3 linked regions of the Homo sapiens genome follow. The protein of the gene in region 2 interacts with the protein of the main gene of each other region in a pairwise test. Each region holds a gene or a part of one and is shown on either strand. Other genes may lie near its edges. The genes, in order: DYNLT3, DYNC1I2 and PPFIA1.

Evidence for each region.
Region 1: the proteins of DYNC1I2 (region 2) and DYNLT3 interact in binary tests that used the Homo sapiens proteins (3 or more experiments, as listed by UniProt).
Region 3: the proteins of DYNC1I2 (region 2) and PPFIA1 interact in binary tests that used the Homo sapiens proteins (3 or more experiments, as listed by UniProt).

The regions. Positions count from the first base shown.
Region 1 is NC_000023.11:37,843,251-37,854,810, reverse strand, and holds the start of DYNLT3 (dynein light chain Tctex-type 3), read left to right. Parts: upstream 1-7,239; 5' UTR 7,240-7,300; coding exon 7,301-7,330; intron 7,331-8,452; coding exon 8,453-8,494; intron 8,495-11,560. UniProt on the Homo sapiens protein: Acts as one of several non-catalytic accessory components of the cytoplasmic dynein 1 complex that are thought to be involved in linking dynein to cargos and to adapter proteins that regulate dynein function.
Region 2 is NC_000002.12:171,742,212-171,750,658, forward strand, and holds the end of DYNC1I2 (cytoplasmic dynein 1 intermediate chain 2), read left to right. Parts: intron 1-1,837; coding exon 1,838-1,978; intron 1,979-3,590; coding exon 3,591-3,716; intron 3,717-5,564; coding exon 5,565-5,678; 3' UTR 5,679-7,947; downstream 7,948-8,447. UniProt on the Homo sapiens protein: Acts as one of several non-catalytic accessory components of the cytoplasmic dynein 1 complex that are thought to be involved in linking dynein to cargos and to adapter proteins that regulate dynein function.
Region 3 is NC_000011.10:70,272,992-70,284,248, forward strand, and holds part of PPFIA1 (liprin-alpha-1), read left to right. Parts: intron 1-5,623; exon of another isoform or gene 5,624-6,412; intron 6,413-10,963; exon of another isoform or gene 10,964-11,079; intron 11,080-11,257. UniProt on the Homo sapiens protein: May regulate the disassembly of focal adhesions. May localize receptor-like tyrosine phosphatases type 2A at specific sites on the plasma membrane, possibly regulating their interaction with the extracellular environment and their association with substrates.

The sequences.
Region 1 (11,560 bases), on a different chromosome or scaffold from region 2:
CAGATTATGGACTTGCCAAGCTTCTACAATTGTGTCAGCCAATTACTTAGAATAAGTATTTTTTGATAAAATTAATGATATTCATATTTTAAAAGTGTGTATGGCAACAATTATCTTAAGCAAAATAAAAAGAGGAAAAAAACTGGGAGAAAGAATGTGTAACTCATCACAAACACAAGGATAATTTGTTATTTATAAAAAGTTCTCACAAATCAACAAGTATGAAAATGGGAAAGGGATAGGAAGAAACAGTTCAAAAAAAGGAAACTATAAGTGACTCTTAAATATCTTAAAATAAATCTCTTTATATACACACATACTCAAAATGAAATTCTGAGAATTGGTTGTTCATATACTTAAAGGAGCACACGGATAATCTTCTTACTGGGAAGAAATAGGGCATATGTAATTCATGACCACGATGTGGCATAATGATTACTCACTTTATCATCAGAGGATGTGATGCAGGTAGAGGGCAAGGCACTGGAGGTCAAGTGGCTGTAGCGCTTAATCTCTATAGCAACAAAGTTTCTTATAAAGATTGTGGAGTCACCTGGTGCTTTATTATAGCTTTAGAAAGTACAGATAGGGAAAATATAAGAGTTATAAATATGAAATGAAGAACATGAATTAAAAAACTAGAAAGTCTGGATTCAGGACTAGATCTAAAAAATAAATAAATAATAATAATAAAAAACTAGAAGACCTCCACGTCAGATTTAAGGGAGTCCCTCATATCTTAGAGCTGTACCACATCACATTGATCCATGACATTGTTGACATTAATTGGAACTGTAATCACAGAGTCCCTGGAAATATAGTAGATGTAGAGCACAAAATGTGCTGCTTGACATATAGAGGAGGTGCATCATCTATTATAGCATTTAAGTTGGTCACACAACCACCTGCAATCAAAAACATTAGCTATGATCAGTGGAGGTAAAAGGGAGAGGGGATGAAGTAACACAGAATAGTTGCTATAGTCCTTGCCTCTGTAGCTGGGCAAGTGGATGGATATTGATGGAGAAAAGTGATAGGCTATACTGGATTCCTGAACCTATTCCTTATAGATCTGCTATATCCACCATCCCAGCACACAGCATTGTAAATAAATCCTCCCTGAATTAATATTTTGGGAGTTTCATCTGCTTCCTACAGAGACTCTGACTAATATGTTCTTTCATCAGTTTTGGAAGACCTTCAGCTAATATTTCATTAAATATTGTTTCTGTCCATTCTGTCTCATCTCCTTCTGGAAATCTCACTATGTATGTTAAACTTTCTCATGGTATTACTTTTGTCTGTATGCTTTCTTCTGTATTTTACATTAATTTATGTCTCTGTGCTTTACTCTGGCTATTTTATTCTGTCCATTTTTTTTTTTCTGAGAGAAAGTCTCACTCTGTCACACAGGCTTGAGTGCAGTGGCATGATCTCAGCTCACTGCAAGCTCTGCCTCCTGGGTTCAAGCCATTCTCCCGCCTCAGCATCCCGAGTAGCTGGGACTACAGGTGCCCACCACCACGCCTGGCTAATTTTTTTGTATTTTTAGTAGAGACGGGATTTCACCATGTTAGTCAGGATGGTCTCGATCTCCTAACCTCATGATCTGCCCCCCTTGGCCTCCCAAAGTGCTCGGATTATAGGCGTGAGCCACTGCGCCCCGGTCTATTCTGTCCAATTTTTTAAGCTTCACTTAATCTTCAGCTTTGTAGGAACCACTATAGAATCGATTCTTTGTTCTTTTTAAAAAATTGGTTACTGTATTTTCTACTTCTAGAAATTCCATTTGTATACTTTTTATAATTTCAAGTTATTGGATGAAATTCTCAACCCTGTCTTTTATCTCTTTTAATATAGTAAGCATAGTTATTTTAAAGTCTATTTCTGATAACTCCATCATCTTCATCCCTGATTGGGCTGTTTCCATTGTCTTTTGATTTAAGATAATGTTGTTTTGTCTCGTTATGTGTCTAGTTATATTTTATTGTCCACTTGATGTATGCAAAAAATCATATGTCTGATTTGAGACCTAAGATAATGTTTTCTTCCTTCAGAGAGAATTTACATTGGCTTCTAGAAGTTGGCTAGAGGCATTAGCAATTCCGGATCACCTTAATTCAATTTTAGGGGTTTGGGTAATTTAAAACTGAGATTCAGTCTGCAAGATCAAGTTTGAGTGTTTCACTCCCAGGGTTTAATCCATGGGGTTTCAACCCAAAGCAAGACTGTTTACCAGAATCATCTTCCTTGGCAGGACATGCAGTCTGATTATTTTACCCCTTGGCCCATAAGCAAAAGGCTTAACATCTTCTCACCTCGAGGTAAAAAGTTATCCCAAATGCCATGCTCATCTTTCTGGGTTTCATTATTCTATGTCTTAGATCCATAATTCTTCCCTATCTTGTTAAAAAATCCAATTCCCTTGAGCAAATGTCTATTATATTTTGTCCAACCTTTGTAATTATCAGTGAAAGAGATGGTCCTAATTACATAGTCTACCATTACAGAAGTCTTTAAATATAATTTTAGTGGTTTGTAAAGTGGGTCCAAATGTTTTTTATCAGCTGCTTCTATGGCAAACCTTTCTAGACAATATAATTTATTCATATTTAGGGAAAATTAATTATTAAAAACTCATTAACAGGAATTGCTTATGGCTGTTCAATGCGTAGAGCCAGATATAAAATATTATATGGGTGAAACCAAGATTGAGGGTCTCACTAAAGCATTGAAAGAGGTTTTATTTGGAAGCTTTAAAAAATTCAATTTTAACACCCTTTCTATTTTATTTTTTCATATAATTATATAAAGTAATGAAAATATTTTTTCACCAAGCCCCATACAGATGCCCACCAAGCCCCTCCAGTTTACCTCAATGTACCATGTAAGTATTATCCTCTATGTGGGCCATAGCATGGAAAAGTTTGGAAAGGACTGACCTACCAACATTTACTTTATATCAATTTTTTTTTTCTTGCTGGCAGAACTCACTTTTCACCATACAGAATGAAAAAACAAACATTTGTTGTCCCATATGTTTTGCCCGGTGGGGAGTCACGTGGCCCAATCTTGGCCACTGGAACCTGAGGAGAAAACTCCTGAGGACTTGAAATAAAGATTTTCTTTCCTAAGAAAATCCGATCAACCCCAGAAAATGCTCATCTTAGTCACTGAACGTGATATCTTTGTTCCTAGCGATACCAGAACTAATGCAGCCGTGTATGACCATGAGGCTAAATGTTGCTGACATGCTGAGGATATTGGCATGGAAAGATGAAAAGCACAGAAGCCCCAAAATTTGTTGAGCAACTAAACGAACCTGGAATATCTCTGCCTCTGTATGTCTGTGTATTAGTCTATTCTCTCATTGCTTTACAGCAATGAGAAATACCTGAGACTGGATAATTTATGAAGTAAAGAGGCTTAGTTGGCTCGTGGTTCTGCAAGCTGCACAGGAAGCAGAGTGACTCCTGCTTCTGGGGAGGCCTCAGGAAACTTACAATCATGGTGGAAGGTGAAGGGGAAGCAGGCACATATTACATGGCTAGAACAGGAAGAAGAGAGAGAGGAGGGAGGTGCTACACACTTTTAAGCAGCCAGATCTCATAATAACTCACTCACTTACTCTCACAAGAACAGCACTGAGGGGATGGTGCTACCCATCATGAGAAATCTGCCTCCATGATCCAATCACCTCCCACCAGGCTCCACCTCCAACACTGGGGATTACAATTCAACATGAGATTTGCTGGGGACAGATCCAAACCATATCAGTCTGGTTATATAAAAAAATAAATGCCATTATTTCAGCTCATCCTATTTGGGTCTTCTGTTACTTGCAACCACAGGATGCTAGTTAATAAACCCACTTGTAGTTTTAAAGCATGAGCCCCAAATTATTTGACACTTCTCCCATTGAGAAGTGGATTATGTGTCCCCTCCCCTTGAATCTGAGTGAATGTTTCAATGATTAGAGTATGGTAGAAGGGCTGCTGTGTAACTCGTGACACTAGGTGATAAAAGGTGACATATCTTCTGCCATGCTCGATGGAACCCTCATGCTTGGAGCCTTGAGTTGCCATGTAAAAGATCTGGCTACCCTAAGGTTGCCATGATGGTAAGAAGCCAATCCACTCGGTGGGGCCATGTGTTGTTGCTCCAGTTGGAAGTGCTAATATTTTATTCATCCAAGCCCAGATATCAGACATGTGAATGAACAAGTCTTCAGATGATTCTGGTCCCCACCATTGAATTTCCTCCAGTCTTTGAGTCTCCCCACCTGAGGCCCCAGACATCACAGAGCAGAGGCAAATTATTTCTGCTGTGCCTTGTTCAAATTTCTGACTAAACGAATCCATGAGCATAATATAGTAAATAAGCTGCTAAATTCTGGGGTAATTTATTACACAGGAATGGTAACTGGAACAACACTTCTTCATCTCACTTTATATGCATCATGAATGATCACATAACACAAACTTGAGATGTGCTGGTGTAGCTCTTGCAGTATTAAGATTAGGTAACTTCAGGGTTTAACCCACCCAGGCATAGAAACAGTTCTTTAGGGAAATAAAACTGATGTTCACAAAGACACTACGAATCCTTCTCATGAATAGACTGCCGGAGTTGCTCATAGGATGAAAACTTTGGTAAAAAAAATTCTTGAAAGAGGATGTGCTTCCTCTATGAATTACAGTCACTTTTCTGCAGTAACCCTGCATGATCCACAACTTAGGAGAACCAATAACAAACACCATACTATCAAGTAAACAGCCTTGTTTGGTTCTAAGTTCATAAAATAAGAGCCTGAGGTTCAGAAGCCCAGGAGTCCAGTTAACACCTATGTGCCCTGTAGAAGTTACTTTATCTTCTCAGCTTCAGTTTTACTTGTAAAATAAGGGAGATGGACTAGAAGACTAATGGTTTCCAACTTTGATTCTGGGGAGCAAAATAGAAAAGTGTTGTGGTTGGCTGAATAATGCTCCCCCTCAAATTTGTCCACATCTGAATTCTGAGAATCTGTGAATATGATACAGAGTGCAAAAGACACATGGCATATGTGATTAAGTTAAGGGTCTTGAGAGGGAAACAGGAGGGCAAGAGTCATACATCTCTCGTTTATAGAGATGCCTCACACTTCCTTTGAAGCAGAAGCGAGAGAGGAGAAAAGATACTACTGGCTTTGAATTTGGAGGAAGGGGTCATGAGCCAAGGAATGCAGGCAATCTCTAGAAGCTGGAAAAGGCAAAGAAACAGAGTCTGTCTTGGAGCCTCCAGAAGGCATGCAGCTCTATGGGCCCATTTTAGACTTCTGACCTCCAGAACTGAGGCAGGAGAATAGGGTCAGGAGGCAGGGAACTTAAAACTGTTTCACGCTTACTTCATAGAACTAAATTGAAAGGAAAACCCTGGCCAGGCACAGTGGCTCACGCCTGTAATCCCAGCACTTTGGGAGGCTGAGGCAGGCAGATCACTTGAGGTCGATGAAGTCGGGAGTTCGAAACCAACCTGACCAACATGGAGAAACCCCGTCTCTACTAAAAATACAAAATTAGCTGGGCGTGGTGGTGCATGCCTGTAATCTCAGCTACTCAGAAGGCTGAGGCAGGAGAATCGCTTGAACCCGAGAGGCGGAGGTTGCCGTGGGTGAGCCGAGATCGCGCCATTGCACTCCGGCCTGGGCAGCAAGAGTGAAACTCCGTCTCAAAAAAAAAAAAAAAAGGAAAACCCTAACCTTCCATACCTTCCATGCCTAAGTAACAAAAGGACCAGAGGCTATTCCCTTTGCAAATCCCCACCTTTTCTGCAGGGCAGATGGGAAATTTAAAGTACCTCTGATTGGTTGCTTTTTGCAACCAAAGAGCAAAAAGCAACCAATCAGACATTTGCACAGGAGTGGAACTTTGTAACTTCACTTCAGCCTCTGATTGGTTGCTGTCTGCAACCAATCAAACTGATTATGGGCCAAATCTTTGTTTGAATAGAAGTGCAACTTTGTAACTTCACTTTAGCCTCTGATGGTTGCTTTCTTGCAACCAATCAGACGTTTGCATAGGAGTGTGGCCTTTGTAACTTCAGCCTCTGATTGTGGGCCACTACTTCATTTACATGGGGTGCACACCAAGTGGCCAATGGGAAATCTCTAGGGGGTATTTGGACCAGAGAAGATTCTGGATCCCGGCCCTTGAGCGGCTTCTCTGCCCGCTCCCACCCTGTAGAGTGTACTTTCGTTTTCAATAAATCTCTGCTTTTGTTGCTTCATTCTTTCCTTGCTTTGTTTGTGCGTTTTGTCCAATTCTTTGTTCAAAGAGCCAAGAACCTGGACACCCTACACTGGTAACAGAACTGTAAGAGAACAGGACTGTGTTTCTTTAAGGCACTACATTTACGGTAATTTGTTACAGTAGCAATAGGAAAGTAATACAGTGGTTAAGAGCTTGGGCTCTGCTATCAGACTACTTGAGCTCAAGTCCCTTTTCTACACCCTACTGGCTGTATGACCTTGGGCAAATTAAATTCTCTATACCTCAGTTTCATCTTGATAAAAGCAGTGATGGAAGAACTAACTCCTCTGACTTATTGTGAGGTTTTGAGGAAGTGTCTAGGATCATCTGGAAATTAGTAATTTATTTTAAAATTACTAATTTAAAATTACTACATTTATTTTAAAATTACTAATTTAAAATTACTACATTTATTTTAAAATGTAGTCATTGTTCTCTTGTTGAGAAGCATCTACTTTAGGAGCCGTGTATACAGCTTCTCATCAGATCCTTACAACCAGTAGTGAAATAGGTATGATGGTAAGTTTCCATATGAGAAAACTGAAGCTGTGGGAGGTGAATTTTTCCAAGTAACATAGCTAGTAAGTGGACAAATCAAAGTGGCTGGTTTACCACGAAATTAACTACATTTATGTGCCACATGATGGTGAATGAACAAATACGTGCAAGTAATCACAGCAGTGGGCACTCAACCACTAGTGCGGAGTCTAGACTAACTGCCACTAGGTCACCCCATCTGATCCACACTGGCGCCATTCCCAGTTCTTTACATTCATCCCTTGTTTCCAGAAAGGGCAGAGGAAGCGAGGAAAAAGTGCGTGGCCTGAAGTGACGCCTGGCGTTGCCCGAAGCCCGCCCAGCGCTGCCAGGTGACGCCACTGCGACACAAAGGCGGGGATTGCGTAGGGAAAGGCCCTAGGCCATAAACGGGGGTGGGGCCTCCCCGGAGGCCAGTGCGCGGCCGCGGTGCTCTACCGGCGTGTCGCTCCGCCCCAGGGAGAGCCGGCGCTACCATGGAGGAGTACCATCGCCACTGCGACGAGGTACCGCCCCTTGGCTACCTGGGAGCGCCCCCCACTCCCGCCTTCCTCTGCGCGGGGCTCTTGCCGGGTGGTCTCCCAGCGAGGGCGGTCCCAAGAGTTGGGGTGCGGCGTCCTCCGAGCCCGGGTCCTCTCCCCTGGGCCCGGGATCCGCCCCGCCCGACCCGTTCTCCCCACCCCAAAGTCCTGAGATTCGGGGTGGGAGGGGTGGCCAGGAGCGCGCGGATCAGACGGTGGGGTCGGGGCAGGGTTGGGAGGACGAGGCCTGACTTGGGTGCGAGGAGTGGGCATGGGGTGACGGGCGCCGCCCTCCTACCGGGCGGGCCTCGAAAACGGGTCTTCCCGCTGCTGCCTCCGTCCCTTGGCTTCCTCAGCGCGGGTGCTGCAGCCCCCATGGCTCGGAGTCTCGGGGTCCTGGTGGCACTGCCATTCCCGCTCCCGGTAATGCTTGCCAGGATTAGGCAAGGAGGTGCTTTATGGATTACGAGCCCTTGCTTACTGACTCAGGCTTTCCCAACCCTCACCAGAAACCCATGATGTCAGTTGTTATCTCCCTGTTATTGATGGGGACTCCAAAGAAAAGACTAAGTTGTCAGACCACTTTATAGTACTAAAGTGATATTAATCTTGAGTTATCAAGTATTTTCATAATCTTTAATTTGGGAAAGGAATTTTTGCCTAGAAATTTTTGCCTAGCATAAGTTAAAAACAAAATTGAAAATAGTCTACTAAGCATTCTCTTCATATGGACCACTTCATTCTCTCACTTAGCTGAAACCATTTCTATATTCTTATGACACATAACATCCTCATAGTCACCTCTTGCTTATTTCCTACGTTTTACAATACAATGATTCTTAATCTAGGATGTTCATTAGAATCACCAGTATAAAGCACTTTTTTAAAAAAAAATGTAGACTTGCAGGCTCTGCCCCAGACCTCACGGGAGGTAGGTAGGGAAAGCATTCAGTATTTTTAAGTGTTTAGGGGCAAGATTGGCCCCTTCTGTAGACCTGATGCCCTTTAACACTTTAACACCTGTCTAGGCCAGCCTAGGATATTCTGTGTAGCGTCATACTTGTAAGCCTGTGTTGAAAGCAGCTTTACCTTTTGTTTTCCCTTTAGGTTGGCTTCAATGCTGAGGAAGCCCACAATATTGTCAAAGAGGTGAGTCATACATTTTGTTTCTCTTGAAGCTTGCTGCACTGGTGGAGATTTTTAAAAGCTATATTTTGAGTTTCAGCACAAACTTAGAAACCTTACTGTTAAAAGAAGAATATTTTGTTTTGTTTTATTTTATTTTATTGTTTTTTGAGATGGAGTCTCGCTCTGTCACCCATGCTGGAGAACAGTGGTGTGATCTCAGCTCACTGCAACCTCCACCTCCTGGGTTCAAGCAATTCTCCTGTCTCAGCCTCCCGAGTAGCTGGGTCTACAGGCGCCCGCCACCACACCCATCCAATTTTTGTATTTTTAGTAGAGACGGGGTTTCACCTTATTGGTCAGGCTGGTTTCGAATTCCTGACCTCCGGTGATCCACCCGCCTTGGCCTCCCAAAGTGCTGGGATTGCAGGCGTGAACCACCACACCCGGCCAAGAACAAGATTTTAAATATTTATCCACTAACTCTTTATAGGGGTCCTTCTATATTTTGTTGTGTGCTATCAGCATCTTGAGGCTTATTCTGAAAGAGATGCTTAAGGATTTTCTTAGTCTAGAAAACTGGTTTAAAATTGATGCCCTGTCTTTTGGATAAAATAACTTTTATTCCAGAAAGCAAACATTATTTTAAATGTTAATGCTATAAAGTATATGTACGCATATATATGTACACACGTCAACTTTTATAATGTAAAGTATATGTATAATATATATGTATATTGTATAAAATAGATAACAAAAGCCCTAGAAATATCTGCCTTTGGGCATGTACACTTTTTTGCCCAATATAATTGGAAAAAATGATCATTTAACATATTTTAAGCATTGATATGATAGTGAATCAAAATTTTAAGAAAAATATTTGAAACTCCTTTTAGGCAAATAGAAAAGAAATTACCTTTGGGAATTAATTCTGGCAGGGGACCGTTCATTATTTTAGAGGTATCACATACAGACCACAGTGTGGGAAAGGTATTTTTTGACACCCAGGTCTGGCCTTACACAGCTAGAATTAACTCAAGGTCTGAGAGGAATAGACAGGCACCTGAAAATCCTGCCATATTTGAATACTTCAGAATTATGCATTCTATCTATGTAGCCTGAGAGTATTTAATTATTAAAAGTAGAAAGCAAAGGTTTTTAATACCTTTACAATGTAAAAGCACAAATGAGGGAAACTGGGAGGTGGAAGAGGGAGTGGAGGTAATGAGAAGGGAGTGATCTTAGTTTTCAAAGTGGCAAGTCAGGAAAGACTGTCCTTGGTTGATGGAACATAAAAGAAAGAATGCTGGGCTATTTGGGATTCCATTTAAATAGTGCCTTCTTCCTTAAGTTCTGAACCAAATGAAAAGAAAAAAGAGCCATTAGAAAGAGAACAAAATACCACCTTTATTATTGATAAAAACCAGTTTGATGATTGTACCTTGTTTTGCTAACTCCCATTCAGTTCAGCCCTGGGAAGAGTCATCCAAGAGAAAGTTTGAGTCAGCAGAGAGAAACACTTGTTCAGGCTGGTGCCTTTCATTGGTTTGGGTGGAGAGGGAAGGAGAAACTAAAGCCCAAGTTCAACACATTTGGGAGACTCCCAAATGAGATGTTAGAACAATGGTTATCACCCACCAACCAGGTAACTCATTCCACCTCCATGGGGAGGAATAACTGACAGGACAAGAGGCCAGGAATGTTAAAGAACAATCCTCTGCGTTGAAGAAAACATCCAGAGTGGAAAAGAAACATGTTTCTAACAGTGTAAATATATTTAAGTTAAAAAATCGTGATTTCACTATATTGAGAGAAGGGGGCGGGTGGTCTGAGGGAACCAAATTTTCATCTATCATAGTAGGAGTTACATGGATGTTGCCTATAATTCATAAATCAGGAAATAGTGAGATAAACATTATTTGGAGATACATAAGTAACCCTTGGAAGAAATAAAAACAGTTGTACACTGATGAGTTTCCTCTGGGGAATGGGACTGGGGATGGGAAAGGAAAGGGTGGGAAGGAAACTCTTCATTCTAAGCTTTTCTGTTCTACTGGATTTTTCAAACCATATGCCTGTTACTTTAATATTATATCAAATTAAAAGAATCATGCTTTTTCAACTGGGAAATACATACTCGGCAGTGGCTAGGTGGTGCTAGAAGTCACTGGATGCATTTTAGAACATCAGTTTTTCTTGAATATTTGTGAGAGGGAGTTAAGTAATATAAATAATATAACTGAAAACATTTTTGAATAAAAACAAACTCTGATGCATTATGTAGTCAAAACAAGCTTCTCTTGAATTTTTATATGAAATATGAGACTGCAAAGAAACTCAGCTTTGCTACAGGTTACTTGCAGCTAAATGTCTATCTTTCCTCTTCCCATGAACCAACCCTCTTCTGCCATTGAAACATTTCCATTGAGACATTGGAAATGCCTGAGAATGAGCAACATTTTAAAACAGTTTAGCACTTCCTAGATGATTACATAATTTCAGCAGTTATTTCTGATTTCCTTACTGATCTTATTTTCTTATTGATCTTATTTTCTTTCCTTTGATTTCTTGCTCTGAGCCCCTATGCTAATATGTTTTTCCTTCTGAACTCAGAGACACCCATTTATCAGTAATATGCATACATTTTCTTTAGTGTTAGTAATAGAAATTGCTTCCCCAAAAAATCGTCGAAGAAAAAGTGAGCTACAAATGACTTAGAATTTAGTCTAAAGTGTATTTGATTTAAGATACCCAGCGAGTATATCAAAACCAATATTGCTTCAACAACATTTGTTGAATACCTGCTAAGTGCCCAGGTCCTGAGTTTAGCACTGAGAATACAGAGCTGTTTAAGGACCTCATTGTCTCATGGGCCTCCATGTTAATGTAATTAATTAGGCTAGATGTTAATTAATAGTAATTAGCAGGGCTATTTACAGTGGCACCCACACCCCATGGTGTTTTCTGCTGTTTAGAGCAAAACTTGGAGTGGTCCTACTAAATAACCTGAAAGAAAAATGAGTGCTCTTACTTTATCCTTAAGGAAAGGTGATCTCAAGAGAGGAATAGGTTTGTCCAAAGGTCACCAGC
Region 2 (8,447 bases):
GCCTAGGCTGGAGTGCAGTGGTGTGATTTCAGCTCACTGCAGCCTCGACATCCTGGGCTCAAACCATCCACCCATCTCAGCCCCCAGGGTGGCTGAGACTATAGGTGCATGCCACCATGCTCAGCTAATTTTTGTATTTTTTGTGGAGATGGGGTTTTGCCATGTTGCCAAGCTGGTCTCAAACTCCTGAGCTCATGTGATCCACCCACCTTGGCTTCTCAAAGTGCTGGGATTACAGGCATGAGCCATGGCACCTGGGCCAGCTTTATTCTTTTGCATATGTATATCTAGTTTTCCCAGCACCATTTCTTGAAAAGACTATTCCTTTCCTATCTAATTTTCTTGACACCACAATAACTTTTATGGAATCTGACTGAGATCCTTTTCTTTGCTATTGTCTACTAGTGAAATGAATTTTTGTGTATTTTTAGGAGGGAGGGAATGGGCAAGGATAACTTTCCTAGTTCATTTTCTAGGTTAAAGCTGTCTCTTCTCTGGCTTTTGCAAAGTGAGAATACATGTACCTTGTGCTTTCTGAGATGTGCCTTTTCTGCTTCTCTCCACCACTTCTGTCTGAACTTACTGCTTTGTCTCTTTTGTCTGGCATTCTACAACTTGGATTCTACTCCCAGCAGTTTCTCTTCTGTGAGACTTTGTCTTGGAAAGGAACTTTGATTTGTTAATTTTGAGAGTTTATAGCACCCAGACTGTACCATGAGAACTTACTTATACTGCACTGTAGTCTGCTTGCATTTACAGTTGACCCTTGAATAATGCAGGGCTTAGGGGTGCCAACGCCTATCCCAGCAGTTCAAAATCCACATATAACTTCTGACTTCCAAAAAACTTAACTACTAATAGCCTACTACTGACCAGAAACCTTTCTGACAACATAAATTGTTGATTAACACATATTTTTTATGTTATATGTATTATATACTGTCATCTTAAGGGCAAGCTAAAGAAATGAAGATGTTAAGAAAATCATAAAGAAGAGAAAATATATTTACTATGCATTAAGTGGATGTGGATCATCATAAAGGTCTTCATCCTTATCATCTTCACAGTTGAGTAGGCTGAGGAGGAAAAGAAAGAGGAAGGGTTGGTTGTGCTGTCCCAGGGGTGGCAGAGGCAGAAGAAAATATGAGTATAAGTGGATCTCTGCAGTTCAAACCTATATGGTTCAAGGGTCAAATGTATTTATAAATGGAATTGTGCCAAACTGCCCCCTAGTTTTTGCTGCTGTTCTCAGATTAGCCCACCACACTGTCCAGTGAGCATCTGCTATGACTGTGAGGTTCTGTTCTCCACCTGTCAGAAGTTCTCGTGCCTTCCTTCATCTTCTTCCCACACAGATACTGATACCATGCAAGTCTTGTAGTTGTGAGAGGTTTGTTTCCACCTGATTTTATTTGGAAGTTTGTCTCCTGATTCTGCTGTAGATGCTGTCTGTGAATCTTTGCTCTTCCTGCCCTCATTGCTTTATCTGAGTTTATGGGGAGAACTAGAGGAGATTTAAAAAGTACACTGCTATTGCTGTTATCTTCCCAGAATCTTCTCATTGACAGATGTTCTTGAAGCATGTTCTATTTCTTTTTTTAAACAGTATGGCATCTACAAGTTAAAAAGAAAATGCAATCAATAGTTGATTCTTAGTTTACAATACCAGGTAATTCTGTAGTGAAACAAATTGTAGGAACTTTTTCTAGGCTGAGTTAAATATCATAAAATGTTATCATACCTGTTGAATGTATGTCATTTTTTTCCCAGTGATAAGTAGTTTAATGATTTGTATGTCATATATGGACTGTGCTAAGAATCAACTTTTCTCTTTCAGAATAACAAGCCTTTGTATTCATTTGAAGATAATGCAGACTATGTTTATGATGTTATGTGGTCACCTACCCACCCAGCCCTGTTTGCCTGTGTGGATGGCATGGGGAGATTGGATTTGTGGAATCTCAATAATGACACAGAGGTGAGCAGGAAAATAACAAAAATTGCATTGAAAAATAGAAAATTGGATATTTATTGAATAATTTGTGAAATTCCTTTTTTTCCAAAGAATGTAAAAGGGTTCTGTGATTGTAGATTCATCACAAAGAACTCAAATAAGCTTTGTACCCTAAATAATAAACAGCATGCTGCGAAGAACTAAAGGGAGAAATAATGTTGCCAGGAGCACTGGGGCATTTCCTTTTACTTCTGAAAAGCACTATCATGTCTCTAATGTCCTGGCAAAGTCTCATTCATAAGATAACTGGGATGTTTTTCATTCATAAGCTAGAAAGCAGATAGTTTCAGACTGTTGAAGTATGTTAACCTTAATTCTGAATTTCTAAATTATCTCTTAGCCTTGATAGCATTGTATATCATCCATAAACATTAATCTTAGCCTGATTTGTTTGAAGGAAGGAAAAATATATTTTGATTTTTGATGAGTTTTTTCTATGAAGGATTGAAAACAGAGTGTTACTATAAAATGAATATAGAAACTATCAGATTTCCTAATTGCTGTACTAAAATCACTTATTAGCCATTAAATTTAATTGCAACTCTTATTTATTTTTAGTCACATGTATTTTTACCAGCTTAGAGAAGCTTAAAAATGTTCTTAGAATTCTATTCTATATTGCTATTAGTAATATAATTAATATTAGCATTTCTGTCAATAACAATTGTTGAGAGAGTCAACTCAGATCTCCCACATCTCTTCCTAGTTAGCTAGAATGGTACCAATTCTGTTTTCTTAATTTGGATTTTAGTCTTAGAGATTTGAAGTTACAATTAAATGTGGATTGAAATTTAATATTTCTTTATAACAATTTTGGTATTCTGTGTATGGGGTTAAATTATTTGGGGATGACTAGTACAAATTAGAAGGATTTTTTTGTCAAATTTCAAAATTTTTTAAAAATTTTATCATACTTTTAGTCTGAATCCAAACACTGAATGTTTGCTCCATGTGTAGCAAATAAAACTCTTCTTCCTTAGCAAAGAAGAGGCACAGTCAGATTCCAGGGAGCTGGTGCCATTGTGTTGGTGCCATCATCCTGGCTATCTCCAGCTAGCTCATGGAACAAGAGGCTTTAGACAGACTCATACTGCACCTTCAGTATGAACCGTTTCTAGGAACACTGAGTCAAATACAGGTTTCAGCTGATAGAGATACATGCTGCACAAGTGATTCTTGTCCTTTACAACTGAACCATAATCTGCTTATGAGGGCTTTTGAAGTGTTTTCTTTTTAAATGGGTTTTGGCCATGTGTTTTCAAACAGCTTGACTTCTTAAAGACATTAAAACAACAAAAAAGGATTCTTTATTCAAGAGAAGACCTTTCAAAATAATGTGTCTAGTCTTCTGAGAATTTTTTATACAAAGACTTATTTTCCCAAACCATTTTCAAGGATCGACTATAATGTCATTCATAATATATCACTGAAGAAGAAGAAAGTTGGGGAAATTCTTACCTGTTTTCATCTTTGTTTTTAAAAATGTAGCCAGCTTGAGAGAAGAATTACTGTTTTACATGTTTATAGAAATCTTGATGAAACTTTTAACACTGTCCTTTATTTTAAATGACTTTAGGTACCAACTGCCAGCATTTCTGTGGAGGGTAATCCTGCTCTTAATCGTGTGAGATGGACCCATTCTGGCAGAGAGATTGCTGTGGGTGATTCTGAAGGACAGATTGTTATATACGATGTGGGAGAGGTATGGGACTCCCTGCCTGTAATTTTGACACATCGATTTAGTTGCATTGTAGTAAAGGCATCTTTGTGGCTAACCCTAGGCTTTGAGGTTTATGAGTTGTTTAAACTATATGGTTGTAAAGATAAAACTTACTTTCTACCACAGAAGCAGCTCTTGAAACATTTTCTTTCTAAACCGAATGTTCTGTTTCCCATGCAACAGATTTTGAGGGTAATACAATAAATACATTGAAAATACCTTGTTTCTTGAAGCATGCATTGCTGGAAATTAGAAATTCTTTGGGGAGAAGTTTGGAGTTATAGGTGGACTTTGGGGTTTTATTGATATTGAAATAAGATTTATTTTTCTGTATTCATTAATTTGGGCCAGGTAGTAGAAACCAAAAGTAGTATCTTTTGAGAACCATCTGTGACTTTATGCAATGTGCATCTTGACTCTTAAGCCTTGATGCAAAGCCACAGTAATGGAATCCAATAGGATGAGCTGCAGCTCTCTCATCTTTGCTGCTCTGATTGGCTGAACACAAAGCCCAGGATGGATTTCCTCTTTTTTAACCCTGGCTAGGGGTTAAAAAAGTGACCTTAGTCACTTTCCTTTGCTATGCCTCATGATTTCTCTCCTCTCTGGATATCCCATGGCCTCTAGCAATTGGATCTGGTGGGAGGTAGATTTAATCATTTACAGCAGCCAATTAAACTATCTGCACAAATGGAAATGTTCTGTACCTGCACTAATATGGTAGCTTCTAGCCACATATGGCTATTGAACACTCTAAGTGTTGCTACTACAACTGCGTAACTGAATTTTTAATTTTAATTAATTTTAATATACACAGTCACATGTGGCCAGTAGCTACCCTACTGGATAGTGTAGATTTATAAACAGGCACAGCCATTTGCCACAGTGAGTGGTTTGTGCCCTAACATGACAGTGTCAGACTCCTATGATATTATAATGGCAGTTATCAAAAATATTTGTTATTGGGGCCGGGCGCAGTGGCTCACACCTGTAATCCCAGCACTTTGGGAGGATGAGGCGGGTGGATCACCTGAGGTCAGGAGTTCGAGACCAGCCTGGCCAACATGGCAAAACCCCATCTCTACTGAAAATACAAAAATTAGCCAGGCATGGTGGCACATACCTGTAATCCCAGCTACTGGGGAGGCTGAGGCAGGAGAATCACTTGAACCTGGGAGGCAGAGGTTACAGTGAGCCAAGATAGTGCCACTGCACTCCAGCCTGGGCAACAGAGTGGGACTGTCTCAAAAAAAAAAAAAAATTATATATATATATATATATATATATGTTATTGGGCTGCCTCTGAAGTAAAGCATCACAAGGCTCTTTTGCCACCAGTGCAGCACTAAAGTGGTAAATAGTAGCACAGCTTTTGATGAAGGAGTTAAGGTATCAAGAAAGATTACCTTATGTTCCAAAGAAAAATACTTACAAGAAACGAGCCCCCTTATGAACCATGCTTCAAACACTGTTTCTTACTAGGAATTTTGCAAGAATACAGTAAAAAAAAAATTTTAAGGAATTCCTCTCCAGCAAAATCCATGAGATGGTGCATAGGAGTTATATTTACAAAGCATCATTGTTATTCTCTCTTGCATTGGTGGTGATAATAGCCAAGTCATTTCTGAGGCTGTCACAACACACTTCACAAACACCGTCTTTTGTTTTGAAATGTTGTAAATCATTGTTATAGTCCCCGTAATTATGGAAAGGCCATTCAGGTCAATTATTACTTTTTAACAGAAAAATTATTTGAAAACAAACTGAATAATAGTGGGTAAAATGATCTTTTATTTCATTGTATATAAAACATTGTCTTTCTTTTAACAGCAGATTGCTGTTCCCCGCAATGATGAATGGGCACGGTTTGGCCGAACACTTGCAGAAATTAATGCAAACCGAGCTGATGCAGAGGAGGAAGCAGCTACCCGAATACCTGCTTAGTTCCTGAAAAGGGGAGTGTAACTAGTGGATTTGGGAAAGGTTCTTAAGTAGATCCTGAGACTATTTGCATGCTTCTGTCTAAATGATAATTAAAAGGAAATTTCATGGATTAAACCATGGGTTTAATGCAGCAAGGAAACTTACAATGTCCCTTTATATATAACATGCATCTTGTTTTGGATTTGTGTCATTTTTTAATATAGCTGATTGACTTCACAGAAAGCAGCTTTTTTGAATTCTAATACATAGGTGTATATTTGGTATTAGTTATTTTGAGTTCTTTTCAACTTATAACACTGTATACAGTTATTTCTAAAGCACAGATGAAATAAGTTCTGCATATTTTTAAATAATCACAGTTCCCTGTTATACAGATAATGTTCTCACTACCCATAATATGTAGGAACATTGTTTCTCCTTAGCCGTAGTATGCATACACCTATCCATGTTCATTCTGACATCCTTTGTTGTCTTTATAATTCATGTGGTAGTTACCTATAAATAAAAACAAATATGCGTTAACTTTTCAAATTTTCATTTTTACTCCTTACAACTTGAATTTTTCCATCTTTTATAAAATATATTTTTTCCATATCTTTCTTTAAGCTCCTGCTGTGAGCAGCCATCTCAAATCCTATAGAGCTGTGTACCCTAAATATACCATGTGGTATATACTATAGATCTCCCAGTGCATTATGAATTGATGTCTAGATAATCTGTTGGTGAAAAAATTTCCCCTAGGTTAACTTTTGCTTTACTACTTTATATTCTTTCCATCTAAGACATATTTCCTTTAAAGGATAAATAGAAAGCTGCCTATAATTTTCACTGATTAAGAACTATGTATGTGACCTCACTGAGAGTAAAATCTTTGAGAGAAATTGATTTCATGATTTCAGTAGCCATAAAGGCAAAGTGCTCAAATGGACCCATACTTTGGCATTAAAATCTACATCTTGAGATCTGTTGCCACAGCATTGTCTACAAGTCCGAAAGGTAGGTGACAAATATCTAAGAATCAGTATTGAAATCAGTGAATTTCAGGAATAGAGGAAAGGACTATGATCAGATCTTGATTTTATCTACTTTAAATTGTCTATTTATTTGATCCCAACCTTTTGTACTTCTGAAGTGTAACTGTCTTTTATTCAACAGAACATGAACTAGGAAGAGAGATTAGAAAACAGAATGTGAACATTTTTCTTTTAATAATTGTAACAAAGATTTGTTGGGAGAGAAATTTCCAAATAATGAGTAGTGTATAGTGTAAGGAATAATTGACCTGGAATTATTGGCCCCAAACTCTGATTCTTGCTGAAGCATCTATGAGAAGTGTGATTTTAGCCAAGTCTGTGCCGCATTCTTTATATGTAGGAATTAAGTTTTGATTTAATGATTTCTGAATTTTCTTTCAGCTCTACTCAATTAAGGGGTATCAGTATGTGAAATGGAATATAGAAAAGTAGGCAATTCTTTACTTTTCTATATTCAGTTTCATAAATTAATACCCCATAATTGCCCATTATATACCAAAGACAATATCTCAAGTTATCTCATTGTAGCAGTGTCTGTGAGTCAAAACTTCAATTTTAGTAGAGTCACACTTTCTTTATATAGAAAAATTCATGTACTCACTACTCATGTAGTTACTGTATCTTTACCTTCAGTTTGTAAAAATGACTAAAAGTAGGGAAAACAAGTGTTAAAACATAATGGATAAGAAAAGGTTGGAAATCATATGGCAAATCACATGTTCCTCAGCCTCAAGGTGTGTTTAGTTGTGAAAGAAAGAATAAAATTGTTTAAATATTTCACTTTTTGGGAATGACTTCTCCCCTACTCCCCCAGAAAATGCGATGTATACCTTTGCCCATTCAACTTTAGTCCATATTTTTAGGAACACACAAATTTACTTTAAGGAATTACCTTTAAAGTTGACTATATAATAGCAAAAGAGAAAGTATTGAGACTGTCAGTGTTGATAAAGCTTCTAGCAAGATTAGGTTGACTAGAAGTGCATCACAGTTCTTTATACTTTTAGAACTAAAAGCCTTATAATTTTGAAAAATATCCAGTTACAGAAATTGTACCTTATCAGTTATACTTTTTTTCTGAGTAAGAAAACAAGCTATAGCTTTCTGGTTAATTTCTTATTTTTCGTTGTTTGGTTTTTGTCTTTTTGAGTGGAACGTTAAAGTTTATTACCTTCATGTTAAGGAATATCCAGCTTCACAGACAATTAACTTGCAATAAATCTCTGAAATAATCATTTTTTGGTATTATTTAAACCAAATATGCATTGGTAGAAGCTTTCTTCCTGTTTACAGATCCAGCTCCCTATAAAGTTTAGAAAATCTCTTTGTATAAAATGTTGTTACAATAATGCTGAAATACTGCATCTCAAAGGAATGGATGACTTAAAATTTAGTGGGAGGAACTATAGGAAAGTCGTTTTAGGAATGATTGGTCCTAGTCTTTCAGTGTTGTTAAAATGTTTTAGTCTGTTCTGTACTAGTGTGGATAGACTAATATCCACCCCTTGAACCATACAGAAAGACTTGAATGGATGAGTGAAAATCTGCTGTGAAGCATATCATACTATCTTTGCTTTATATTGAGTAGTGCATTACTTTTAAGTCAGAAAGCCAGTAGGTTTTTTTGTTTGTTTGTTTTTCCCTAAAGCGCTGCCATAAATTTCAGTGGTCACCTGCCACTCACTGGGCGGTGTATTTTTAAATGTCTTTTCCACAACCCCAGTATTTCAACATT
Region 3 (11,257 bases), on a different chromosome or scaffold from region 2:
CTTAGGCCGGGTGTGGTGGCTCATGCCTGTAATCCCAGCACTCTGGGAGGCTGAGGCAGGCGGATCACCTGAGGTCAGGAGTTTGAGACCAGCCTGGCCAACATGGCAAAACCCTGTCTCTACCAAAAATACAAAAATTAGCAGAGCGTGGTAGCGCGCATCTGTAGTCCCAGCTACTCAGAGGCTGAGGCATGAGAATCACTTGAACCCGGGAGGTGGAGGTTGCAGTGAGCCAAGATTGCACCACTGCTCTCCAGCCTGTCTCAAAAAAAAAAAAGATTTTTAAAGCTTAGAACAACTGAAATTGTTTCTCTGAGTATGTTACATTTGGACCAGTGTTTGAAAGACTTTGCTCATGGAGTTGAATGAGGATTTACTTAATGGTAGGTAAAGGGAGAAAGTAAAAACTAGAAGAGTGTAAGGTGAGTGGCACGGGGCATAGTGGGAGAGAAGTGGGTTATTTATGTGTTTCAGAGCTGTCTAGGCGCCACGTTACTCATCATAAGTGCCTTTGGGGTGCATTCAGGTAGACCCGCATAAGCACACATTTATACTCGCATGATGGGTCTGCAGTGATAAATTAGTAAATGAATAAGTACTAGCCTTAATGTGTTTCTTGGCTGTAGTCAGTTCTCCTGAAAGATTGATAAGCCAAACGTGGGTTTCCTTTTTAGCAACAATAATTTGACGTTAGCGCTCTATGTTCCTTTTTTGTTGGATTAAAGAATCATTAAGATTTTTCTTATTTCAATCTTATAAATTACCAAGTTTATTTATGTTGAATTTTATTACTACAATTTTAAAAGAAGTAGCCAATTTATGTTTTACCAGGATTTTATTGTATTTGTAATTTAAGGTACACGTATTGAAGTGTATATCAAATACTAATATACTTAATAAGGTAGGTTTTGGAAAGAATGGGCACACAAGACATGTCAGGGAAGTGACAGGAGTTTTGTACAGTTAGTCGCAGGCTGTGGAGGTTGTCACACACACTGGTGACATGGTTGCTCAGTGATTTGTTTCTGGCACTGCTCAGTGTAGCAGCCTGGGAATGCCTAGTTCAGTGGATAACATGATGATGCCAACGGTTCACGTTACCACCTGAGCACCTGATTCCAGCCTTTCAAAAATGGAAACTATTAAGTAAACTTGTTTTGGACCCTTCCCTTTCCTGGCATCTGGTTCATCTTTGGTGGCTGGTAGTGTGACCAGATAATGAGTCCAGGAAGTGCATTTGTGCTCCTGGCACATTGTGGAGGCAAGTTAGAGTGTACTTAAAAATATACATAACTATAGCATACAGCAGAAAAATTCACAAATCGTAAGTATACATCTCAGTGGACTTTTCACAAAGTTAACACACTTGCATACCACCACCCAGATCAAGAAATGGAACATTATCAGGCTTCCTAGAAGTCCCCTCCTAACTATTCCCAGTAGTTGTCCCCCAGAGCTAACCAAGGTCTTGACCTTTCACCATTGATTACTTTTGCCTGTTCTTGACTTTGTTTAAGTGAAGTAAAATAATCTGTATGTTTTGCTTCTTCATTCTGTCGTCAGCATCATGTTTGTGAGATGCAGCTTGCTCATTCTCACCTGCTCTCTGGTCATCCCGTGCACGAACAGACAGAACTTATTCTTTCTACTGCTCACAGACATTTGGGGTTGTTTCCAGTTTTTACACGTGCTCCCCTAATATTGTTTGTTTTTTGGTGCAGATGTCTATAAACTTTTTTTTTTTTGAGATAGGGTCTCACTCTGTTGCCCAGGCTGGAGTGCAGTGGCATGATCTCGGCTCACTGTAGCCTCCACCTCCCAGGTTGAAGCGATTCTCCTGCCTCAGCCTCCCAAGTAGCTGGGAATACAGGCACGCATCACCACCCTCCGCTAATTTTTGTATTTTTTGTAGAGGTGGGGTTTTACCATGTTGCCCAGGCCGGAGGATATGTGTACACTTCTGTTGGATTTCTACAAAGAAGTGGAATGCAAATGATGGTGTGTGCATTTGTTCAGCCTCAGTAGAGAGTGCCAAAAGTGGTGGTTGTGACAGTTTGTACTACCCCAGCAATGTATGAGAAGTCAGTTGCTCCTATGCTCTTCAGCACTTGGTATTGTTGGGTCTTTACATTTTAGCTGTTCTGGTGGCTGTTAGCTGGTAGGTGGCTCAGTATGGTCTGAATTTGCTGCTCCCTGATGGCCAGGAACATGCAGAGGTAAAGCATCTCTACCTGTGTTCACTGGCCACCTGGATGTCTTTTGTGAAACGGTTATCTTTTGCCCATCTGTTGATTGGGTTGTCTGTTTTGTTTTTTACTGATTTGAAGGAGTTTTCTCTATATTCTGAGTACATATGTGCATGACAGATTGTTTTTAGACTCTTGTGTTTGCCTTTTCACTCTCTCAGTTGTATCTTTTGATACATAGAAGTGTAAAATTTTTAATGTAGCCCAGTTGATCCATCTTTTCAGTAATGTTTAATGCTCTTTGTGTCCTGTTTAAGAAATTTGCTTGGTCAAGTTCATGAGATATTCTACATTGTCTTCTAAAAACTATTTTTTAATCTTCCATCTGAAATTGACTTTGTTTATGGTATGCGATGGGGCCAAGAGTCTCTCTTTCTTTTTTTAAATGGATATCTAGTTGACCTTGCATAATTTCTTAAAAGACTATTCTTTCCCCAGTGTACTACATGCAGTGTCATCTCAGTCCAGTGACTGTAAGTGTGTGGGTCTGTTTCTGGACTCTCTTCTGCTCCTTTGATCTTTTTGTCATCTTTGCACAAATAGCACAATGTCTAAATTCCCATAGATATAGTCTGTCTTGAGATCTGGTAATTTAAGAAAAGGGTACTCACTCGGTTGCCCAGACTAGTCTCCAACTCCTGGTGTCAAGCGATCCTCTCACCTTGGTCTCCCAAAGTGCTGGGATTACCACTGTGAGCCACCACACCTGGCCCTGTAGATATTCTTTATCAAAATGTAAAAATTCTCCTCTTCTTAGTTTGCCAAGAGTTTTTTAAAAACCATGAGCAGGTATTAAATTTCTTAACATGGATTTTCTGCATCTTTTGAGACAGTCATGTGATTTTTCTGTTATGTGGGAATTTAACTGTTTTTGTTTGTTTATTTTTGAGATGGGGTCTTGCTCCATTACCCAGCCCGGAGTGCAGTGGCACCATCATAGCTCGCTGTAGCCTTGAACTCCTGGGCTAAAGTGATCTTCCCACCTCAGCCTCTCAAGTAGTTGGAATTATAGACGCACGCCACTGCGCCTTGCTTTTTTTTTTTTTTTTAATTGCATATTGTTTGTAGCCTGGGGAAGCAACTTCAGGAGCTCCTGAGAAAGAGCACCTCCCTTTTAAAAAAAATTTACAATTGTAGAATAATTCCAACCTGATCTTGATGTATTCTCCTTTTACTGGATTATATTTGGTAGTATTTTGTTTAGGATTATTGCATTTATATTCACGAGAAAGATTGACTTATAATTTCAGTTTCCTTCAGTACCCTTGTTGGGATTTGGTATCAAGGTTATGCTGGTTTCTTAAAACAAGGTGGAATGTATTCCTTCTTTTTCTACTCCCTAGAAGAGTTCCTACGAAATTTGTGTTTTCTTCCTTAAATGTTTGAAATAATTCTTTGGCAAAACCAGCTGGTACAGGGTTTTCCTTGTGAGAAGGAAAAATTTTAGAATTAATTTTATAGGTAGATGTAGGATTTTGAATATTTCTTCATGTGTCTATTTAGATAAAGCATTTTTCCCCGCTAGAGATTTGTTCAGGCCACCCAGACTTTCCAATTTGTAAGTTTAAAGTGGTTTGTAATCCTTATTATCTGCAAGATCTGTAGTGATGTTCCCTTTTAATAATTCTTGATATCAGTAATTCATATATTATCTCTTAATCAGTCTTGTTGGGGGTTTGTCAATTTTGTAAGTTCTTTTAAGGGACCAACTTTCGGCTTTACATTTTTTTCTACTTACATTTGTTTTCTATTGCATTAATTTCTACTTTTTTTTTTTTGCTTTTTTTTTGTTTGATTGAGATATATATATATATATATATATATTTTTTTTTTTCCAGGCACAGTCTCATTGTGTCTCCCAGGGTCAAGTCCTTAGATACTTGAACTGGATTTAACTCCCTCCTACCTTTTGTGTCATTGTTTTATATATTTCAGTTTAATTTATATTTATTTTTAAAAATAGAGACAGCGTCTTGCTGTATTGCCCCAGCTGGTCTTCAACTCCTGGCCTCAGGTGATCCTCCCCCCTTAGCCTCCCAAAACAATGGGATCCAGGCGTGAGCCACTACACGCTTTTAGCTGCATCTTACAAGTTTATGTACTTTAATTTTAGATATACTTTTGCAGTATCATAATTATTTTGTACAGTTAATGTTTATTTAGATTTATCCTCTTAGTTACCATTTTTGTTGCTCTTCATTCTTTATTGTTGTTTCATGTTTCTGCCGGGGATTATATTTCTTGTTTTTTTTTTTTCTTTTTTTCTTTTTTGAGACAGAGTCTCGCTCTGTTGCCCAGGCTGAAGTGCAGTGGCACGATCTTGGCGCACTGCAACCTCCATCTCCCATGTTTGAGCGATTTTCTTGCCTCAGCCTTCTGAGTAGCTGGGACTATAGGCATATGCCACCACATCCGGCTAATTGTTGTATTTTTAGTAGAGACTGGGTTTCACCATGTTGGCCAGGCTGGTCTCAAGCTCCTGACCTCAAGTGATCTGCCTGCTTCAGCCTCCAAAGTGCTGGGATTACAGATGTGAGCCACTGCGCCCAGCCTATATTTCTTTTCCCTGAAGAACTTTCTACGGTATTTCTTTGAGTTCATATCTGTGGATAATGAATTGTCATTTTTGTTTGCCTGAAAATTTTCTATTTTGCCTTTAGTTTTTGTTTTGTTTTGTTTTGTTTTGTTTTTTAAGATGGAGTCTCGCTCTGTCGCCGGTCTGGAGTGCAGTGATGTGATCTTGGCTCACTGCAACCACCGCCTCCCGGGTTCAAGCAATTCTCCTGCCTCAGCCGCCCGAGTAGCTGGAACTACAAGCACGTGCCACCACGCCCAGCTAATTTTTGTATTTTTAGTAGAGAAGGTGTTTCACCATGTTGGCCAGGATGGTCTCTATCTGTTGACCTGGTGATCTGCCCTCGTCAGCCTCCCAAAGTGCTGGGATTACAGGCGTGAGCCACCATGCCTGGCCTTTTTTTTTTTAAATGTGATGTTTCACCATGTTTGCCAGGCTGGGGTCAAACTCATTGGCTCAAGCAGCTGCCTGCCTCAGCCTCCCAAACTGCTGGGATTACAGGTGTGAGCCACTGTGCCCAATTTGCCTTCAGTTTTGAAGGATGATTTTGCTGGGTATAGAATACTGGGATCGTGGTCATTTCCTTGCACCATTTTGTAGCAGCGAATTCATTGTTTTTTTAGCTCGCTTCCTTTTTCTTGACAAGTCAGCTTTTGGTGTTATTGTTGTCCCATTTGAAGTAATACTTCTTTTTATTTTCCCCTCTGGTTGCTTTTTATTTTTATTTTTTGGAGAGGATATGACTTTTACTGAGTTTATCCACCAGAGTGGAAATAATGTTTGTGCAAAACCAAATGTTTGTTACTATAACTCTCCATCACAATTAAAATCCAAACAGTTTTTTGAAAACAGTCAACTCAATCAAAACCCACTACTTCAGAATCAATAGCTTCTTTGAAGCCACAGTAACAAATATGGTTAAGACTTGAATGTAGAAATTTGTTGGTTGGAAAGCTAATTAAACTTCCAACTTGCTCAAGTAGAATTACAGAAAGGCAGAATTGTGTTTTTCACAGAGATATAGTTCACTGGAATCAGCCACACTGGACAGCTGGTAGAGTGTTTAGGGTCCTGAGATAATAAGGAATCCAGGCAGCCTTTAGACAGTCTGCTGTTGTCCTTTCTTCCCAATTAGAGATTTGTGGATGTGTGGAATGACACCTTTACCAGCAATTGTAGACTTGAAGAGAGAGCCCAATTCTTTATCTCCACGAATGGCAAGTTGCAAGTAATGAGGGGTAGTATGCTTTACTGTGAAGTCTTTTGACGCATTTCTTGCCAGTTCAAGTACCTCTGCGGTGAGGTACTCCAGGATGGCTGTGCTATTCACAGCGGCAGTCGCGCCCACACGTCCAGGACTGATTGTCCTAGATTTCAGGTGTCAGTGAATACGGCCCACCAGGAACTGCAAATTGGCTCTCTTGTGAGTGGGAAGCTGCCTTTGTTGGCCTTTCTGGAGTCCTTCCCAGCCTTACTGCCAGCCATTTTCAATTCTGCTGAAGCTCAAACAGGCAAGGCAGAGAAAGGACTAATCAGACACACAGCAAGATCTCACCATCTACTCATTCCTCACACCAGGATTTGAAGCTGCCTCTGGTGGCTTGTAACATTTTCTTTGCTTCAGGCATTAGCAAAACTTGGTATTTGTTGTATTGGTGGCCTGGTTCCTAATCAATTTTGGAAGTTTTGGCTCTTCTCTCTATAAATATTCCTATTTTCCACTCATCTTCACTCAGAGGGCCTCCATTTTTGTGTACATTAGGCATTTTTTTTTTTTTTGAGATGGAGTTTCGCTATTGTTGCCCAAGTTGGAGTGCAATGGTGTGATATACATTAGGCTTTTATCATGTCCTATGTGTCTCTTGTGCTCCTTTCCGTATTTTCTAGACCTTTTCTGTGTATGTGTCTAGGTGTGTGTGTGTGTGTGTGTGTGTGTGTGTGTGTGTGTGTATTTAGTTTTTAGAGACTGGGTCTCTCTGTTGCCCAGGGTGGTCTTGAACTCTTGGGCTCAAGCAGTCTTCCTGCCTTGGCCTCCTAAACTGTTGGGACTACAGGCGTGAGCCACCGTGTCCGGCCTGTGTGTGTGTGGGGGATGTGTGTGTGTGTATATTTTTGGGACAGGGTCTCGCTCTGTTGCCCAGGCTGTAGTGTAGTGGTGCAGTCTCAGCTCACTGCAGCATCTGCCTTCTGGGCTCAAGCGATCCTCCCACCTCAGCTCCTGAGTAGCAGGGACTACAGGTGCGTGCCACCACACCTGGCTAATTTCTGTATTTTCAGTGGAGGTGGGGTTTTGCCATGTTGCACAGACTGGTCTCAAACTCCTGGACTTAAGTGATCCACTTGCCTCAGTCTCCGAAAGTGTTGGGATTACAGGCATGAGCTAGCATGTGTGTATATATGTGTGTATATATATATACGTACATACATATATATATATAAATATATATGTATATAAAAATTTTTAAGAGACAGGTGGCTGGGTGCAGTGGCTCACGCCTGTAATCCCAGCACTTTGGGAGGCCAAGGTGGGTGAATCACTTGAAGTCAGGAGTTCGAGACCAGCCTGGCCAACATGGTGAAACCCTGTCTCTACTAAAAATACAAAAAATAGCCGGGCATGGTGGCACATGCCTGTAATCCCAGCTACTTGGGAGGCTGAGGCAGGAGACTCACTTGAACCTGGGAGACGGAGGTTGCAGTGAGCCAAGATCACGCCATTGCACTCCAGCCTGGGTGGCAAGAGCGAAACTCCGTCTCGGGGAAAAAGAAAAAGACAGGCACCCTGTTGTTGCCGAGGCTGCAGTGCAGTGGCGCGCGTGATCACTGTTCACTGCAGCCTCAAACTCCAGGGCTCAAGCAATCCTTCTGCCTCAGCCTTCTGAGTAGCTGGGACTATAGGTATGTGCCACTGTGCCCAGCTAATTTTTAAATTTTTTGTAGAGGCAGGGTCTTGCTATTTTGCCCAAGCTGTTCTTAAACTCCTGACCTCAAGTGAGCCTCCTACCTTGACATGTCAAAGCACTGGGATTACAGGTGTGAGCTATTGTGCCCAAAATCTAAAGTCCAGATTTTTTTTACTGACCCATCTTCCACCTCACTCATCCCCTCTTCATTTGTGTCCAATCTGCTGTTTAGCCCATAGATTGAGTTCTTAATTTCAGTTATAATTTTCAGTTCTAGAGTCTGCTTAATTCCTTTTACTATTCTAGTTCTCTAGTGAAATTTTTTCCTTTTGTCAAGTATATTTTTGAATAGTTGACATTTGCATCTGATAACTCTATTATATGGGTCACCTCCGGATCCATTTCTGTTTTTCTTTTTTCTCTAGGTTCATTTGTTGATAACGCCCATTTTTGTTTTTTTAATTGAGTCAGACATTATGTATGAAAAACTGTAGAAAGCGCTGGGTGATGCTGTCTTCCTTCAGAAAGTTTCCCTCTGTCATCTGGCACATGCCCAGAGTAGGGACAGATCATCTCAGCTCAGTCAGGGCCTGGGTGACCAGAGGCTGGGATTCAGTCAGTAAGCGTCAGTTGAAGCTGCCTTCCCCCAACCTCCTGCTCCTGGTGTAACCATCCGGGGGTTCCATCTGAAACCCTGGAGTGTTTCCCAGGGCCCCTCTTTCTTGGCGTGTCCTGGAGCCCAAGTTTTGTCTCCTTAACGCCATGAGACTACTGAAAGCCCAGCTTCTCGGCCAGGTTTGCAGAGTGTTGGGCTCATTTCCTGTGTCTCCCTTTTCTCTGGGATCTTGGCCCCTTAAGTCCTGGCTGACTGTCAGGCCTGTACTTCTTTTTGTCTCCCCAGACCCTTGGGGCTTTCTAGAGCTCTGTAGCCTCTACTTTCTGCTGAGTTTTCTTCCCAGTTATCAGTGTACTGCCCCCAAATCCTTCCAAATTGTCAAATGCACTGACAGAAAGAGTGGGGGCTCTGAATAGTGGACTCACCTCAGTGGGCCTCTCTTTGGTTTGGAATGTTGGTCCCTTCATTTGTGGCTGCCTTGGCATCTCTTTGATGCCTGCAGACTTTCAAGTCATACTCACCTTTTCTAGTTTTTGGTGGGTTGCCGGGCTACAGGCCACCCCGCGTATCACTGAAACTGGAGCTGAAGCGGGCGTGCTCTCTCTGTCTGCAGCATATGCGGAGTCTGGAGACATTGGTTATCATTACTTGATAGGGAGCATACAGAACCCACTCACCTCGCTTAGGCTACCTTGTCCAGTTTCTTTTTTTTTTTTCCAGTCTGCTTCTCATGACATTGTCCAGTTTCTAATCAGAATCCCCCATTTGCCCCTGCCCAGTCACTTAACCACTTAAAGACAGTAGAGCAAGTGGCCTGCCCAGCGGGAGACACAGCCCTTGGCCTCCAATTCCCGTCTTGGCCACTGTGTGGGCTGTTCCACCCTGCTGTAGTCTCTACTCTTCCCCATGCCCTGTGTCAGACCGAGGGAGGGTTTGTGATGACATATCTGGCAGTGGCAAAGAAGGAGGCTAGGGAGGTAGGAGAGGTTGTGTGCGTGGTGTTTAGTCTTACTTTGGAGATGGGGTCTTGCTGTGTTGCCTAGGCTGATCTCCAACTCCAGGGCTCAAGCCATCCTTCTGCCTTGGCTTCCTGAGTAGCTACCACTACAGGCATGAACCAGTGTGCCCAGCTACCTAATGTTTATTCTATGACTTGATCCCATGTATGTTTCCTTTTTGAGTGCTGATTTTTTTTTTTTTTTTTTTTTTTTTTTTGAGATGGAGTCTTGCTCTGTCACCCAGGCTGGAGTGCAGTGGCGTGATCTCGGCTCACTGCAAGCTCCACCCCCTGGGTTCACACCATTCTTCTGCCTCAGCCTCCCCAGTAGCTGGGACTACAGGTGCCCGCCACTACATCCAGCTAGTTTTTGTTTTGTATTTTTAGTAGAGACAGGGTTTCACCATGTTAGCCAGAATGGTCGCGATCTCCTGACCTCATGATCCACTGCATGCCTTGGCCTCCCAAAGTGCTGGGATTACAGGCGTGAGCCACCGTGCCTGGCTTTTTTTTTTTTTTTTTTTTTTTAAGAAGGAATTTTGCTCTTGTCGCCCAGGCTGGAGTGCAATGGTGCGATCTCAGCTCACTGCAACCTCCATGTCCCAGGTTCAAGCGATTCTCTTGCCTCAGCCTCCTGAGTAGCTGGGACCATAGGCGTGCATCACCATGCCCGGCTGATTTTTGTATTTTTAGTAGAGACGGGGTTTCACCATGTTGGTCAGGCTAGTCTTGAACTTCTGACCTCAGGTGATCTGCCCGCCTCAGCCTCCCACAGTGCTGGGATTACAGGCATGAGCCATCATGCCTGACCGACTGACCGAGTGCTTTTTTTTTTTTTTAAAGCAAATATTGCCTTTGGGCTTCTCTCTAATTTCATTTTAAAGTTTCAGTTGCATTTTCAAATGGAGATTTTATTTTAAACTGGAGTGCAGTGATTTTTACAGTCTTTTTGAAAGCAACAAATGAGATTTTTAGAAGACCTCTTGCTTGAAGAACTCTTTTGTGTGAAACCTAGAAGAGAGACTGTTCACCTTTCATTGCAGGTGAGGTCCCAAATTTTGCCAGTCTCTCTCCCAATCTGCCAATCCCTGAAGCAGGGGGTACAAAACTCAGAAGATTCTAAGGAATGAGGTCTTCAAATCAAATCCAAACTTAGTGAAAAAGAAGTCTACCTGTGTCAGGGGTGTTCCCTGTCAAAGTGATGGGTGAGCTTCAGCTGGTTGCAGTGGAAGGTGTGCTGGATGGATTGAGGAGGCGAGAGGGTGCAAGACAGCCCATTTAGGAGGCAGTTCCTGCAATGTGGGCATGAAGTGTTACAGCCCAAACTAGGATGCTAGAATCCGAGGGCAGAGGGCAGTAGAAAAGAACAACCTGGCGGAATTGTGTAGGACTAGAGGATGACAGCCGAGTGGCAGATACCAGGGTCAAGCTTGCGGGGAGAAGGGGGACGGGGGTGGGGGAGAGTAAAGAGGAGACGCTGGTGTTTGGTGGTGTTGAGAGGTATTTGTGGTTGTCACAGCTAGGGCAGGGATGCTCCTAAACATTCTGCAGTGGAGCCCCCTCAACAAAGAATTATCTGGCCCCAAATGTTGGAAGTGTCCAGGTTTAGGTATAAAGAATCAGAAGCTTTTCTCAAGTATTGCTGTTAGGTTGGTGCAAAAGTACTTGCGGATTTTGCTTTACTTTTAATGGCAAAAACCGCAATTATTTTTGCTTCAACCTAATATGATGCAAAATTGGCTACAACTGTAATTTGTTGAGTGCTGCAAACAAGGTACTTGCTAAGCTTAACTTTAGTGAACAAATTAGGAAGAATTGGAATAAGGTAAAACTAGCTAAATGACTCTTCCCTGAGAATAAATACTAATGACTGCCCCTTCAGATGGTGCCCCCTCATCTGCTTTACTGACTGTTTCTTAG